Homo sapiens: one gene and its partner. The protein of the gene in region 1 purifies or fractionates together with the protein of each later gene. This does not show direct contact. Each region holds a gene or a part of one and is shown on either strand. Other genes may lie near its edges. The genes, in order: CDC123 and LBR.

The links.
Region 2: the proteins of CDC123 (region 1) and LBR purify together in Homo sapiens (affinity purification with mass spectrometry; 2 studies listed by BioGRID and IntAct, with this or other methods). This does not show direct contact.

The regions. Positions count from the first base shown.
Region 1 is NC_000010.11:12,233,883-12,241,187, reverse strand, and holds part of CDC123 (translation initiation factor eIF2 assembly protein), read right to left. Parts: intron 6,141-7,305; coding exon 6,065-6,140; intron 4,045-6,064; coding exon 3,922-4,044; intron 2,732-3,921; coding exon 2,703-2,731; intron 1-2,702. UniProt on the Homo sapiens protein: ATP-dependent protein-folding chaperone for the eIF2 complex. Binds to the gamma subunit of the eIF2 complex which allows the subunit to assemble with the alpha and beta subunits.
Region 2 is NC_000001.11:225,410,959-225,418,263, reverse strand, and holds part of LBR (delta(14)-sterol reductase LBR), read left to right. Parts: intron 1-83; coding exon 84-280; intron 281-2,931; coding exon 2,932-2,986; intron 2,987-5,618; coding exon 5,619-5,810; intron 5,811-6,823; coding exon 6,824-6,927; intron 6,928-7,305. UniProt on the Homo sapiens protein: Catalyzes the reduction of the C14-unsaturated bond of lanosterol, as part of the metabolic pathway leading to cholesterol biosynthesis.

The DNA of each region.
Region 1 (7,305 bases):
AAGATAAACTTCATCCTCACTTACTAAGAAAAATAGAAGTAGAAATTATACTGAAACATCATTTCTCTACGAAACCCCAAAAACCCTGAAGAGTGTAACCCTATATTGTAAAGGCAAGCTCTGAGGAAGCCTGCAGGTACTGTGATGCATTCCTGGGGGGATCTGGTCAGGTGTAACCTCTACCGAGGGTAAACTGCAACATTAAAATACATTTCACTTTTGAGCCAGCAATCCCGCTTCTAGGAATTCACCCTGTAGATTCACCTGCAGCGTGTGAAATGACACACGTACGGGATTATTCACCATGGCAGACTGCAGAAGACCAGACACAACCTGGTGTTCACTGCTAGGCATGACATGTATGATCATGGCTCACTGCAGCCTCAACCTCCCAGTCTCAAGCGATCCTCCCAACTCAGCTCCCGGGAGTAGCTGGGGCTACAGGCACAAACCACCACACCTGGCTAATTTTTATGTAGAGACGAGGTCTCATTATGTTAAGCCCAGGCTGATCTCAAACTCCTGGGCTCAAGCCATCCTCCCACCTCAGCCTCCCAAAATGCTGAAAATACAGGCGTGAGCCACAACAATGGCCTAAAGCCCCTCTTTCTAGTAACTCTTAACAGACACCATCATCTTTGAAGACAAAGAGGTGAAAATATAGTGATGTCTTTTGACGTAAGAGTTAAATGAACAGTTAACAGTTATTCTGGGACATGATCATATGGGCCATATCTTTTTGTCCAAAGATGATTCGAAGATGTCCAAAGGTGATTCAGATTCAAATGACTGTCTCACTTACAATGAGGCTGATCTAAGCACGGAGAGAGAATGAGAAATATTCTGCTTGTGTGTAGGTGACACGGGAAAACGCATCTGCTAGCTTCTTCACAATGTCAAAGAGCACTCAGCACCAAACAGCATTTAGTGACCTAAACTTCTTAATAAAGATGACATGTCTTGGACAGTGAAATCTCTGCTCTAGTAATTCTTCATTAAGTCAGCAGTAAGTAACTTTACTAGTAAGTCACTTTAACTTTTTCCTTACAGAAGTTTTCATCACTTTTAAGATTTAAAAAATAAACTAATCCTCTTCTGTCTAAAGATAAAAGTAACTCAAACTTTGAGTCACTTTTAGTTGACTAAAAATAATAATAATAATTTTTTTTTTTTTTTTTTTGAGACGGAGTCTCGCTCTGTAGCCCAGGCTGGAGTGCAGTGGCGCGATCTCGGCTCACTGCAAGCTCCGCCTCCCGGGTTCACGCCATTCTCCCGCCTCAGCCTCCAGAGTAGCTGGGACTACAAGTGCCCGCCAACACACCCGGCTAATTTTTTGTATTTTTAGTAGAGACAGGGTTTCACCGTTTTAGCCAGGATGGTCTCGATCTCCTGACCTCGTGATCTGCCCGTCTCGGCCTCCCAAAGTGCTGGGATTACAGGTGTGAGCCACCGCGCCCGGCCCCTTTTTTTTTTTTTTAAAAAACAGAGTTTCGCTCTTGTTGCCCAGGCTGGAATGCAATAGCACAATCTCAACTCACTGCAACCTCCACCTCCTGGTTCAAGTGATTCTCCTGTGCCTCAGCTTCCCACGTAGCTAGGTGGCATGCGCCACCATGCCCGGCTAATTTTGTATTTTTAGTAGAGACAGGGTTTCTCCATGTTGGTCAGGTGGGTTTCGAACTCCCGACCTCAGGTGATCTGCCCGCCTCAGCCTCCCAAAGTGCTGGGATTACGGGCGTGAGCCACTGCACCCGGCCAAAATAATTATATAAATATCAAGTGACAAACTCCTGGCCAAATTTAAGTGTGCAAACTGAACTATTTTAAGCAGGCCCTGACCTCTGACACAAATGAGACATAGGACGTAAGTGCTCATTTACCTACCTGTTCAATAAAGAATCCCTAAACCATGGTACACAATGATTTCAGCTATTAAGTCCTCTAATGTTAGGTATATTTTAAGGGGAGATTTTTGACCATGGTGAATTTCAATCACCTTAGTTGATGTGAGAAAAAAAAAAAAATTTGAGGAGGGGATGGGGTCTCACTCTGTCACCCTGGCTGGAGAGCAGTGGCGCAATCAAGGCTCACTGCAGCCTTGCATTCCCGGGCTCAAGTGATCCTCCCAGCTCAGCCTCTTGCATAACTGGGACTACAGGCAAACACCACCAGGCCCGGATATTTTTTTTTTCTCTTTTGAGGCAGAGTCTCGCTCTGTTGCCCAGGCTGCAGCACAATGGCGTGATCTCCGCTCACTGCAATCTCTGCCTCCTGAGTAGCTGGGATTTCAGGCACCCACCACCATGCCTGGCTCATTTTTTTGTATTTTTAGTAGAGACGGAGTTTCACCATGTTGCCGAGGCTGATCTTGAACTCCTGACCTCAAGTGATCCTCCCACCTCGGCCTCCCAAAGTGCTGGGGTTACAGGTGTGAGCCACTGTGCCTGGCCTGGGCTAATTTTTTTTTAATTTTTAGTAGAGATGAGGGCTCACTATGTTGCCCAGGCTAGTCTCGAACTCCTGAGCTCAAATGATCTCCCTGCCTAAGCCTCCCAAAGTGCTGGGAATACAGGCATGAGCTGCTGCACCCAGACAAAATATTTTTTGAGCATGGATCCTTCACACACATAACAAAGGCATGCTCTGCCTGCTTATAAAACCAGCTCTTATATTAAAGCATATCAGAAAGAGTTTTTACTTACCCTACTGTCTCTGTATATATCGAACACAACTGTAAAGGAGAAAAAAAGTCAGTTATTAATGAACTAATATTTCACAATGTAAATCTCCTTTTGAAAATTAAAGTACATTTTAATCAAAGACAGCAGAATATAAATGACCCTGAGGACTTCATGCTTCTAAACCTCAAAACTTCAAACATAAAAAGGCATCCTGCAATGTTTTATTTATATAACTTTGCTTTACTGTTCTCTGTTCCCCAACCATAAGCCCCTATATTTAAAAATTCAAACCAAACGCCAATATCATCTCAACCAGTTCCCCGTTATAGACTGGTTCTATGGGAAAGATGGGAGTCACTGAGCAAAGTACTAGTGAAACGGGCATCAATCACTGATCTGGTAGAATGCAATGAGTAAAGCTTATAATAGAAAGCATAAAATCTAATGAGCCTTGAAGCATGATTCATCTTATTTTAAGTCAAATCTGCCACAGAGCCCAGTCTTGGCAAGTAGAGAAATTGTAAATCATAGCAGATATAATTTTCAGATGTATGAAAACTCTTACACAATATACTTTCAATTCCTAAAAACAACCCACAAATGTTTACTTTGTAACTGGTGCTGTCTTTGATCATTCAAAGAAGCTAGAAAGGTAGATAGACTTTGTTCTCTGTAGATAGCCCCTTTGAAATACACAATCAAACATCTAAAACAAGACAGGGAACTGACTTAGCAGTAAAAATAGATTTTAGTTAAATAAGATGAAATTAACATGGCTGGTGCGGTGGCTCACATCTGTAATCCCAGCACACTGTGAGGCTGAAGTGGGCGGATCACTTAGGCCAGGAGTTCAAGACCAGCCTGGCCAACATGGCGAAACTCCATCTCTACTAAACATACAAAAAATTAGCCGGGTGTGGTGACGTGCACCTGTAGCCCCAGCTACTTGGGAGGCTGAGGCAGGAGAATCACCTGAACCCGGGAGGTGGAAGCTGCACGAGCCGCGATCGCACCACTGCACTCCAGCCTGGCTGACAGAGTAAGACTGTCTCCAAATAAAAATAATAATAATAAAAAGAAATTAACATACAAACTATCAAAAATAACAAATAATAATATAGTAAAATGCTTACAATACAGTATTTCAAATCTAGTTATTAGGATACACACCATAGTAAATAAGGTCCAGTAACAATGTATATTTCATTTCATTTTACTGGATCAATAAAAAAATACTCACAGTCTTCATCTAAGAATTTGTACTGTATGTGTTTCTTGAAAAAGTCTTGTATGCATCTGCGAATTTCTTCCTTTTGTTTAGAAATATGATCATAGTATTGTGTGTAGTCTCTTTGAGAAATACCTGACAAGAAAATATTTTACATCCTGTTATTATACAATATTCTTTTCAAAAACATCAATACGTGATTTAAACATTTTGTGGAAAGAACCATTAAAGTAGATTAGAAGATCACCCTGATGGGTACGGCATTACACACGACCCAGCTGTAAGGATTCATATGAACAGGTGAATCCTGAAGTCCTACATTGCCATGTCTTCTTACTTCTGGAAGAATTTACTTTTTGTTTTGTTTTGTTTTGTTTTGTTTTGTTTTGAGACGGAGTCTCACTCTATTGCCCAGGCTGGAGTGCAGTGGCACGATCTCGGCTCACTGCAACCTCTGCTGCCCGAGAAGCGATTCTCCTGCCTCAGCCTCCCAAGTAGCAAGGATTACGGGCGCCTGCCACCACACCCAGCAAATTTTTTTTTGTATTTTTAGCAGAGATGGGGTTTCACCATCTTGGCCAGGCTGGTCTTGAACTGATCTCATGATCCACCCACCTCAGCCTCCCAAAATGCTGGGATTACAGGTGTAAGCCACCGCACCTGGCCTTTTTTTTTTTTTAGAGACAGTGTCTCATTCTGTTGCCCAGGCTGGGGTACAGTGGCACAATCATAGCTTATTACAACCTCCACTTTCTGAGCTCAAGTGACCCTCCCACCTCAGTCTCCCGAGTAGCCGGGACTACAGGCATGTGCCACCATGCCTGGCTCATCGTTTTATTTTTTGTAGAGACGGGGTCTCAGTACATTGCGCAGGCTGGTCTTGAACTCCTGGCCTCAAGCAATCCTCCAGCCTTGGCCTCTCAAACTGTTGGGATTACAGGTGTGAGCCACAGCACCTTGCCCATGGAAACAGTTATTTTCATTTAGTAAAATGGAAGGAATTCAAAGTCACAAAAAGTCTTGTTATGTAAAAAATTAAAGCAGCAATTCTAAACCTGCACACATAATCAACTGCTGCTGCTTTGCTTTCTTCCAAAGAGTCTCTGCAAATTGGTATTCTCTTCCACTTTCTTTGGGAAAATATCAAATATTCTTCAAGAGATGCCTGCCATATTCATACTGTATTGCATAGAAGCAGTCTATTTTTCTTGTTCATACATGCTACTTGGCCTTCACAGCCTGCTCTCGTTCAAGCCATGGAAAAGTAAACATTCCTTTTTTCAGAGTGACTTGCTGACAAGATTCCAAACACACTAACTGGACTATTACACAAACTCCCTGAATTTGCTCCAGTCCTAGGGAAAAGTTCTCTGCTCTGAAATACGGGCTTCCTATTCCTGAATCTTGTGCCAACAGGACCCCCCGCTTTAGAGTACTTACACTGCAGCTTCTTCAAGAATATCGAGCAATATGAGAAATGTGAACACCCCAACTTTCTTTCAGGTGGGTTCATACATTTCAACATCACATTCAATGCATCAATAGTGCTGATGTGATTGTATTCAAATTACACTTTTCTAGGTTGAAGATAAATTTTACTTCATGGAAAATATGCATTAACAAAATAAAGAACAAATTATCTTCAATATTTAAGTTAAATCAATCATAGCAAACAGAACAGTAACCTGAGAGGAAAGAAAATGGGTGACTTAGAAGAATACACTTACTTGTCCACATATTTTCTCTTGCTAGAATAATAAACAGTGCCCCAATAATAGAAATAAAGGTTCCAAAACTTGGCTTTTTATGACGCTTGAAATAAGCAGACTATTGCTAAGTACTGCTTAGGAAAATTCCATACACAGAGTTCCTGATTCCTAAATCAGGAACAGTGACAACCACCATTTTTATCTCTGGAATCCAGACAGCCATGATTATCTGACAATACCGTTTCCTGCGGCAAGTGACTCTGGGCTCAGGATTCCTGTCAACACAGCATTCCAGAGAGTCAGTATCAACTGGTTAGAGGTGGCATCTGAGATGAAAACAGATTGACATCCCTGTCCTAATTACTGGAAATTTACTTCCAACAAAAGCTTGTTTTCTTTTAAAGATGACTTTGAAGGATAAAACAAACAAACAAACAAAAACTCACCAATAAGCTTGTTTTCCTTGACAAAACATCGAAACTCAGCCCCAGGAATCAATTCACACCATTTTCGGAGAACGAGCTGTAAACAAAAGAAAAAATATTTAATATAACACACCTATGTGGTAAGGTCTACTAGGCAATTTTAGGTCAACACTGTATCTTAATGATTGCCATTATCAAATGGTTTTAAAAAAAGAGGCATATGACATTCTTGGCCGGGCATGATGGCACATGCCTGTCAGCTACTCAGAAGGCTGAGGCAGGAGAATCACTTGAACCCGGGAGGTGGAGGTTGCAGAGAGCCAAGATCACGCCATTGCACTTCAGCCTGGGAAACAAGAGCAAAACTCCATCTCAAAAAAAAAAAAAAAAAAAATTCTTCACATGAGATGTAGGGAATAGAGTTGTGATCTATTATTCTGATAACCACAGGAAAATTGTGCTAAAATTCTATGACAAAATGCATCCTTGTCACATAACTGCCATTTTGAGAGTTCTGACATACAAGCACACCACCAAGAATGTAGTCACAACTTTTCACCACAGTGCCATACGTTCATTCATATGTTCTGCACCCCTTGAGGAATATCAAATAATAAAGTAATTCCAGCCAGGTGCGGAGGCTCACGCCTATAACCCCAGCACTTTCGGAGACTGAGGCGGGCGATCACCTGAGGTCAGGAGTTCAAGATCAGCCTGGCCAACATGGTAAAACCCCGTCTCTACTAAAAGTACAAAAAAATGAGCCAGGCATGGTGGCGGGTGCCTGTAATCCCAGCTACTCAGGAGGCAGAGGTTGTAGAGAGCCCAGATCGCGCCATTGCGCTCCAACATGTGAAACCTCCTCTACTAAAAACACAAAAAATTAGCCAGGTGTGGTGGCAGGCACCTGTAGCCCCAGCTACTAAGGAGGCTGAGGCAGGAGAATCGCTTGAACCCAGGAAGCGGAGGTTGCAGTGAGCCGAGATTGCGCCACACTGCACTCCAGCCTGGGCGACAGAGCAAAACTCCATCTAAAAAATAAAATAAAATAAAATATAGTAAAATAAAATAATATAATTCTAAAGTTGTCTACCTTAAGTACCATGAGGTAATGCTTACTTTGATATAATTATTATTGAGGTTTGTCACAATGAATCACCAAAATAACTCTCTCACTATTTTCTCAATATTTTAGTCGATCAATTCTACCCTTGGCCTAAATCACAAATGGGTCTTATTACTGTAATTAATAATTATTTAAT
Region 2 (7,305 bases), on another chromosome or scaffold:
TGATCTTAACAAATCTAACATGATTCTTAAATAAATAAACCAGATTGAAATTTGAGCCTCGAATGTTCATGAATTGTTTGCAGGTGTGTTTCTCATCATGTTTGGCCTGCCTGTGTTCCTCTTCCTGTTGCTGTTGATGTGTAAACAGAAAGATCCCAGTCTTCTGAATTTCCCTCCTCCTTTGCCAGCTTTGTATGAGTTATGGGAAACCAGAGTATTTGGGGTCTACCTCCTGTGGTTTTTGATTCAAGTCCTGTTCTACCTACTGCCAATTGGAAAGGTACGTTTATGGTAATTCTGTTTTGTTTTAATAAGATGAGGTCTCACTATATTGTCCAGGCGGGTCTCCAATTTCTGGGATCAAGTGATCCTCTTGCCGCAGCCTCCTGAGTCGCTGGGACCACAGGCCTGTGCCATGCTGCCCAGCCTTAGAGTAGTTTAAAGGTTAAAGGCTGTTGTTGGTCATAATTCCCAAAACTTAGTTCATGAAGCCATTTCTCTTGTGCTGTCTGTATAACACTTGCTTATTAGGAGGAACTTAAAAAAAAATCTGATTGAGATTTCTTGTGTAACTTTTCAAACCAAATAGAAAAGAATAGGCTATTTTGCAAAGTAGCCGACTCTCAGTGGAGGTTGCTATGGAAAAAAAATTCACTCTTAGTATGTGTCATTTCAGATGCAGCATTTTAAATGATTAATTGATAGGCTACTGGGCTCGATGGACTTTAGTCTACATCTTTTACTTTAAAAAAGTATGAAAAGTTTCTAATTTTCATCTCTTTCAGAAGCTTGTTGTCAAGAACATTTTACGTTGTTTTCAGATTCCTGCAATATCTTTAAAATTTGTCTCTCCATTGCTAAGTGTAGTTTTTTCTTCTTTCAGTAGAATCCTTTACTTGGATATATTTAAAGAAACATGAGATTCCCTAAGTAATAAATAATTTATTTAAAGATCTTATTCTTAGGGCTTTGCAAGTTTGCCAACTGTCTGTAAACCAAAGGATCGGTTTTACTGGTGAATGCCAGTGATAGGAGGGTAGAGCTGCAGGCTTAATACTGTGGAGTGAGACCATAACTTTAGTGGCTCTAGCAAGGATTTTTGTGATAAAGACCTTCAGTCATTTCTACAGTAAGCCTCTACAGTTAAATTCAGATTCATTTAGGGTAAGGTGATTTCAGAGTATCAAGGAAAGCAGTTTTGGTGTTTAAAGTCATATATGTATATACTCATAGACTAAAGTGACTAAAAGCATATATATTAAAATATATATTAATATTATGCAGTCATCCCTTGATATCCTTGGGGAGTGGTTCCAGGACCTCCTGTACATACCAAAATCTGAGGATGCTGAAGGCCCTGATAAGAAATAGTATAGTATTTGCATATAACCTGTGTGCATCTTCCTTGTATACTTTGTTGCCTTTAGGTTGCTTATAATACCTAATACAACGTAAGTGCCATGTAAATAGTTATCATACTGTATTAGGGAATAAGGACAAGAAAAAGAAGTCTGTACATATTCAGCTCAGATGCAATTTTTTCCGAAATATTTTGGATCTGGTTGGTTGAATCCATGGATGTGGATCCCGTCGATACGGAGGGCTGACTGTATATTTGGATCTATATATTCACAGATTAAAGCCTAACACAGCATTTACTAGACTCCTTTAATAGATAAGGATCATCTGAAATTAGCATGTGGCATTTTACTAATCCTGTGATCTCAAACAGCTTTTACGTTTCTCTTGGGAGAGGAGGAATGCTAGCTAATGAAATCTGTAGCTAATGATAAGATAAAGTAGTTTAGCCCAGAGCAAATGATACTATATTTATATTTTACAGTTTGAAATGAATTGCTACATTTCTGAATAGTTATTTTGTGGGGTAAAACGTGGCTGCATTGAGCAAGTGGACTTTTTACTGAGCCAGTTCTATTGGGTACCATGCCTGTGGGTATCTCTGTGCTGAATGCTGTGAGTGATGCCGAATGAAGAGAGGAGATGGTTCTGATGCATGATGCGTGCTCACAGTCTCTCTCTCTCTCTCTCTTTTTTTTTTTTTTTCTTGAGACAGGGTCTTGCTCTGTTGCCCAGGCTGGAGTGCAGTGGTGCAATCTGCAACCTCCTCCTGGGCTGAAGTCATCTTCCCACTTCAGCCTCCCGAGTAGCTGGGACCACAGGCGCGTGCCACCAGGCTTGGCTAGTTTTTGTATTTTGTATTTTTGTAGAGAGGGGATTTCACCATGTTGCCCAGGCTGGTCTCCAACTCCTGGACTCAAGTGATCCTCCCACCTTGACCTCTCAAAGTGCTGGGATTACAGGCATGAGTCACCACACCTGGTTTCTCACAGTCTCTTATTGCAGATAAAAGAATCACATGAAATGGTTAAATAACTGGATGGGCAATATATATATAATATATAGCAGAGCAAGTAAGCATATGAGTATGCGTCATCAAATAGCACTTGGGTCATAGTAGAGTGGATAAACAGGGTAGAGCCCAATTGAAAAGGACCCCACAAATGGAAGACAATGGAATCATACTGTTACTTTGTAAGAGTATGGTAGCCATTGGTAGATGTTTGAGCTAGGGATCCACTAGATATAAAGGTATTTAAGCACATTTAGTCTTGAGGTGGTGGTACACAGGAGTGTGGCAGGGAGCGTGGCTGTTGCAGTTGCTTGGTCCTACACTAGGAAGTCATTACTGAATTTGTATTTAAGATAAATTCCTGAAGGTGGAATTGCGTCATTAAAGGGCTTGCCACTAGGGTTTTTGAAACATATTACTAAATTTCCATGTTACAAGATATCTTCCTTCTTGGGCGTGTTGAAAATTAAGTGATACTAGAATATATATATGTGTGTGTGTATATATGTATATATGATGGTGATGTGCTTAGTAAATTTGTAAATTTTTTTTCTTTTAAGGTTGTAGAAGGAACGCCTCTTATTGATGGAAGAAGACTCAAGTATAGATTAAATGGTGATTTTCTTTTTTTAAGACTCAAATTGATGATTTGATAGCTTAAACTTCTAAGTGTTAAACTCTTTGTTAAAGCTGATTAGACCAGAGTAGTAAGTGATAAATTATTTCTTAGTAGTTGGAAGAGCAACTGTTTATACCTGTAGCCAACTTGTATAAATTATGCCATTAAAGTAACATAGCCTCTTAGTCACTCTTGTCCACTCTCCAGTTTTATTTTCTTAATAGTGCTCATCACTGTTAGAAATCATTGCACTTGTCTAGGATTTTATCACCTGAGGTGTTACACGGATGTGGGCATCCAGGCCACTCCTGCTGCGTGAGCTGCTCTTGTCCTTGCTCATGTCCTCTGGGTTGTCCCTTGAATATTCGTCACACACACTTCCTGGGCCTTTGCCTGGAGAACTTACCCCCAAACGTCTGACACCTGCATCTTCACCTCCATCTGTCTTCTGCTGAGAGAAGCCTTCAGGTCCCTTTCTCTCCCCTGCTCTGTTTTGTTTTTCTGTCTGACATTTGTGCCTCCACACATCAGTGTATTTGTCTCTTCATTAGGGTCTCTCCACTAGAATGTGGCTTCATGGGCTAGGACTTGGCTATGTTCATTGTGACACTCTTGGTGCTAGGAAGATGGGCATGTAGTGGGTGCTCATTCATATGTGAGTGCTGGATGGATGAGTTGTGAGCTTGCTGGGCAGCTCAATAAATGGATAGACCTTGCTCCCTGTGGGTCCGGCATCTCGCACTGTAAGAGCATGTGCTGAGTGCTTCAGTCCAGCTTTGTCATTTGAAGACTTTGGCAAAGTACAGATCTATTTTGTAGTCATCCTTGAATGATTTTCCATTTGACAAGACGGAGTAGAGTGTTTTCCTTTTCTTGAGAATTACATTATGTATTGTAATGGTTGAACTTTTTATCCTTTCAATTCTTCATTTTTTAACTTTGGATACTTTGTTTAGAGACTTACGCAGCATCTACTCTGTCTGCAGTCACTCCACTGGGTTCTAAAGGGGAAGCCAAAGATAGTTTAGACACCTTCTGCCTTTTAGTGCCAGTCATGTGATAAAACGTCTCCCCCAGCTCCAGAGTCTGACCCCTGGTGGGTGCTTAATACTTATCATTGGTATTGTTAGACTTTTTGTTGCTTTTACCAAATTCTTTGCTGATGGAGCAAGTTTTAGAACCTTTGGCACCCTCCCTCCCTCTGGTGGTTCACTTACCACACCAGGGAAGGTGAGTCTGGGGTGAGGTGGGTTGTTGACTTTGCCGCCAGGTCCTTTGATTTCAGTGTTTTGTGTGTTTCTCTGTAGGTACCAATTCTTTTCTAAGTAGTCTTGTGTTATATTTTCACTTCCCTCTGAGGGGTGTGGTACATTCAGAGACTGAGCACAGCACTTGGACATGGAGCTCTTGGAGCCAGTGGGGGAGTGGCTGGCCAAGTTGCTTGATCCTTTTTAAAAATTTCCTCATCTAATTACTCTGGTTCAAGTATTGAGATTTCTTTTCGAGATTTTACGATTATTAACTAAGGAGGTTCCTAAGACATTTTGGATGATTATTTTTAATCCACATAGGCTAGAGAGCAAAAGACTGCTTTATCTAACCATTCTTTTTTAAAATTACATTTTATGAAAGGTAAATGAATATTTTCAAAAGTCAGAATTTAGAAGTTATTGTTTGGAGTATTTGTGGAAAATGTGGATTCAGATAATTTGAGACAACTATTTTACTTTACAAAAGGTTTGGTTTTAGAATTCTCATATAAATAACAGCTACCTCTTTTTTGCTTTTGACCGTTTATCCAAATGGATTTGATGACTTTTTAGGATCACAGCTCTTTGAGGCACTCAGCTCCTTTGAAAGCAAAACTATTTCTTTAGCCAAAAGAAAAAAATTGGATCTTCCAGTGAGCCTTTCTGTGTGGCTGCAGGACTAGCCCGGAACGAGAGTTCTGTGGAGCGTCACAGGGCGGGTGCTTTTTAACTTGGCATTGCACGTGAATGTCCCCGCCTGCTGTCCCTACCCCCCAGGTACTCGCAGTCCCCTGCCTAGCCTCGGGCATTTGTGTTGTGGCATCTTTTCTGCGGGTGGCATGTTAAGATCTCTGTTCTGGATGATAGAGTTTTACTAGAATCTTTTGAAACCATTATTGGCAACTTGGTTAAGTATAAATATTTATAATTTTGTAACTACCAACCTGGCTCGGTGCCTGACCCCTGGTAGGTGCATAATACCCTCCCCTTAGGTAATGGCATTAGACTTTAAAATATGTGTTTGGCCCAGCTCTGTTAATAATTAGCCATTTGACTTTGTGCCTGAGAGTTTGGATTGTGGGAATTTTCAGGTTGCACTTCTTGTCTGTTTTCCCTTAATTAAAAGCAAATAATGACCATTTGAACTGAAAAAGAATCAATATGTTAAACTATTTGGAAAGTTCTACAAGAGATAATGGTATGTATATTGAAAATTATACCTCAGACATTGCTTATTTGCATATTTGTGTGTATTTAGTCTGAATAATGAAATTAAGACTTTAAAAATGAACATTGCATTGTTTCATAGTGGCGTAAGTTTCATGTGAGCCTTGGGTTAATATTAATTTTCCACTTCCTTTTTTTTTTTTTTTTAAAGGATTCTATGCTTTTATCCTGACATCTGCAGTCATCGGAACATCTCTCTTCCAGGGCGTAGAGTTTCATTACGTGTACAGTCATTTTCTTCAGTTTGCACTTGCGGCCACTGTTTTTTGTGTGGTCTTGAGTGTGTATCTCTACATGCGCTCTTTGAAAGCGCCCCGGAATGACCTGTCGCCTGCCAGCTCTGGTGAGCAGTGATGAATTGCATGTTGGATGAATGCGTCCCAGAGCCCTCCAGCAGCCATTTCCAGATTTGAATAGATTGCTTTTTTTCTAACTTCATTTTTGGGAAATGAAGAGAAGTAAGAAAAAATGAAAAGATGAAGAAAAACGTTAAAGAGATATGAATTTAAAGGAAGAAAATATTTTTGTTTTACCTTCATACTTTCTTACTCATTTCTTTTTTTTGCAGTTGCTTGATGACAGTAAGACGTTTAGTAAACTTACAGGCATTTTGACTTATGACAAATATTATTTCTTTGTCCAAAATAGTAAACACTCTTTAAAAAACAAAAAACAACAGAGGTTACTGGCCGGGTGAGGTGGCTCATGCCTGTAATCCCAGCACTTCGGGAGGCCAAGGCGGGTGGATCACCTGAGGTCAGGAGTTTGAGACCAGCCTGGCCAATATGGTGAAACCCCATCTCTACTAAAAATACAAAAATCAGCTGGGCGTGGTGGTGCACACCTATAATCCCATCTACTCGGGAGGCTGAGGCAAGAGAATCGCTTGAGCGTGGGAGGCGGAGGTTGCAGTGAGCCGAGACTGTGCCACTGCACTGTAGCCTGGGCCACAGAGCGAGGCTCCATCTCAAAACAAAACAAACAAAAAACAAGAGAAACGAGAGGTTACAAATTGGTTGATGCTGACCTGAAGTATTTCAATATAAAAAAATGTCGCCTATCTAAAAAAAATGGAGTGTAAAGTCCTTTGGGGGGGCCCCCATGATTTTGGTTAACTTTTTTAAGAAACCTGGGCCCCCGGCTCCCCCAAAGGCTGGAGCAACTGCCTTTTCAGTCGGGCAGGCATCTCCTGGTTCCGCTCGTCTGTGCCGTCCTGTCTGCCTCTCACCACCAGAGCCCTGCTCAGGGTCTTGCAGGCAGTGGAATTGTGAGCCTGGATAGTGGGCGGCAGTGCCGTTGTAAAGCCTCCTGACTGGGTTTGGAATGCTGTTTGGGTAAACACTTTTCCTTTCTCAGGAAATGCTGTCTATGATTTCTTCATTGGCCGTGAATTAAACCCTCGAATTGGTACTTTTGATCTCAAATACTTTTGTGAATTGCGCCCCGGATTGATTGGATGGGTATGTCTGGTTTTTTTTCTTCTAAATTTCAATTCAATAGGTCTAATTAACTGCTAGAAAGAAATGTAGACCATTCAAAAATAAGCAGTGGGTGGTATATTTTTAGGGATAATTATGGCTTTCCATAAATCTATCAAAATACTTTCTTGTAAGTATTTTCCAGAGGTTTAAGATGCCCTGTTACAGGTTATGACAAATTAAATAACTTTTCTTTGCTTTATTTTTATTATATCAGTTTATATTTATGTAGGAAAGTGATAGTGTGGATGAATTAATGTAAGAAAAAATGCATTTTCCTCCTTTTTAAATTTTACCTAGTTTTAGGCTTGGAGTTGCAGATAGAGAGCAAAGAGTTCCCTTCCACCCTTCATTCTGTTT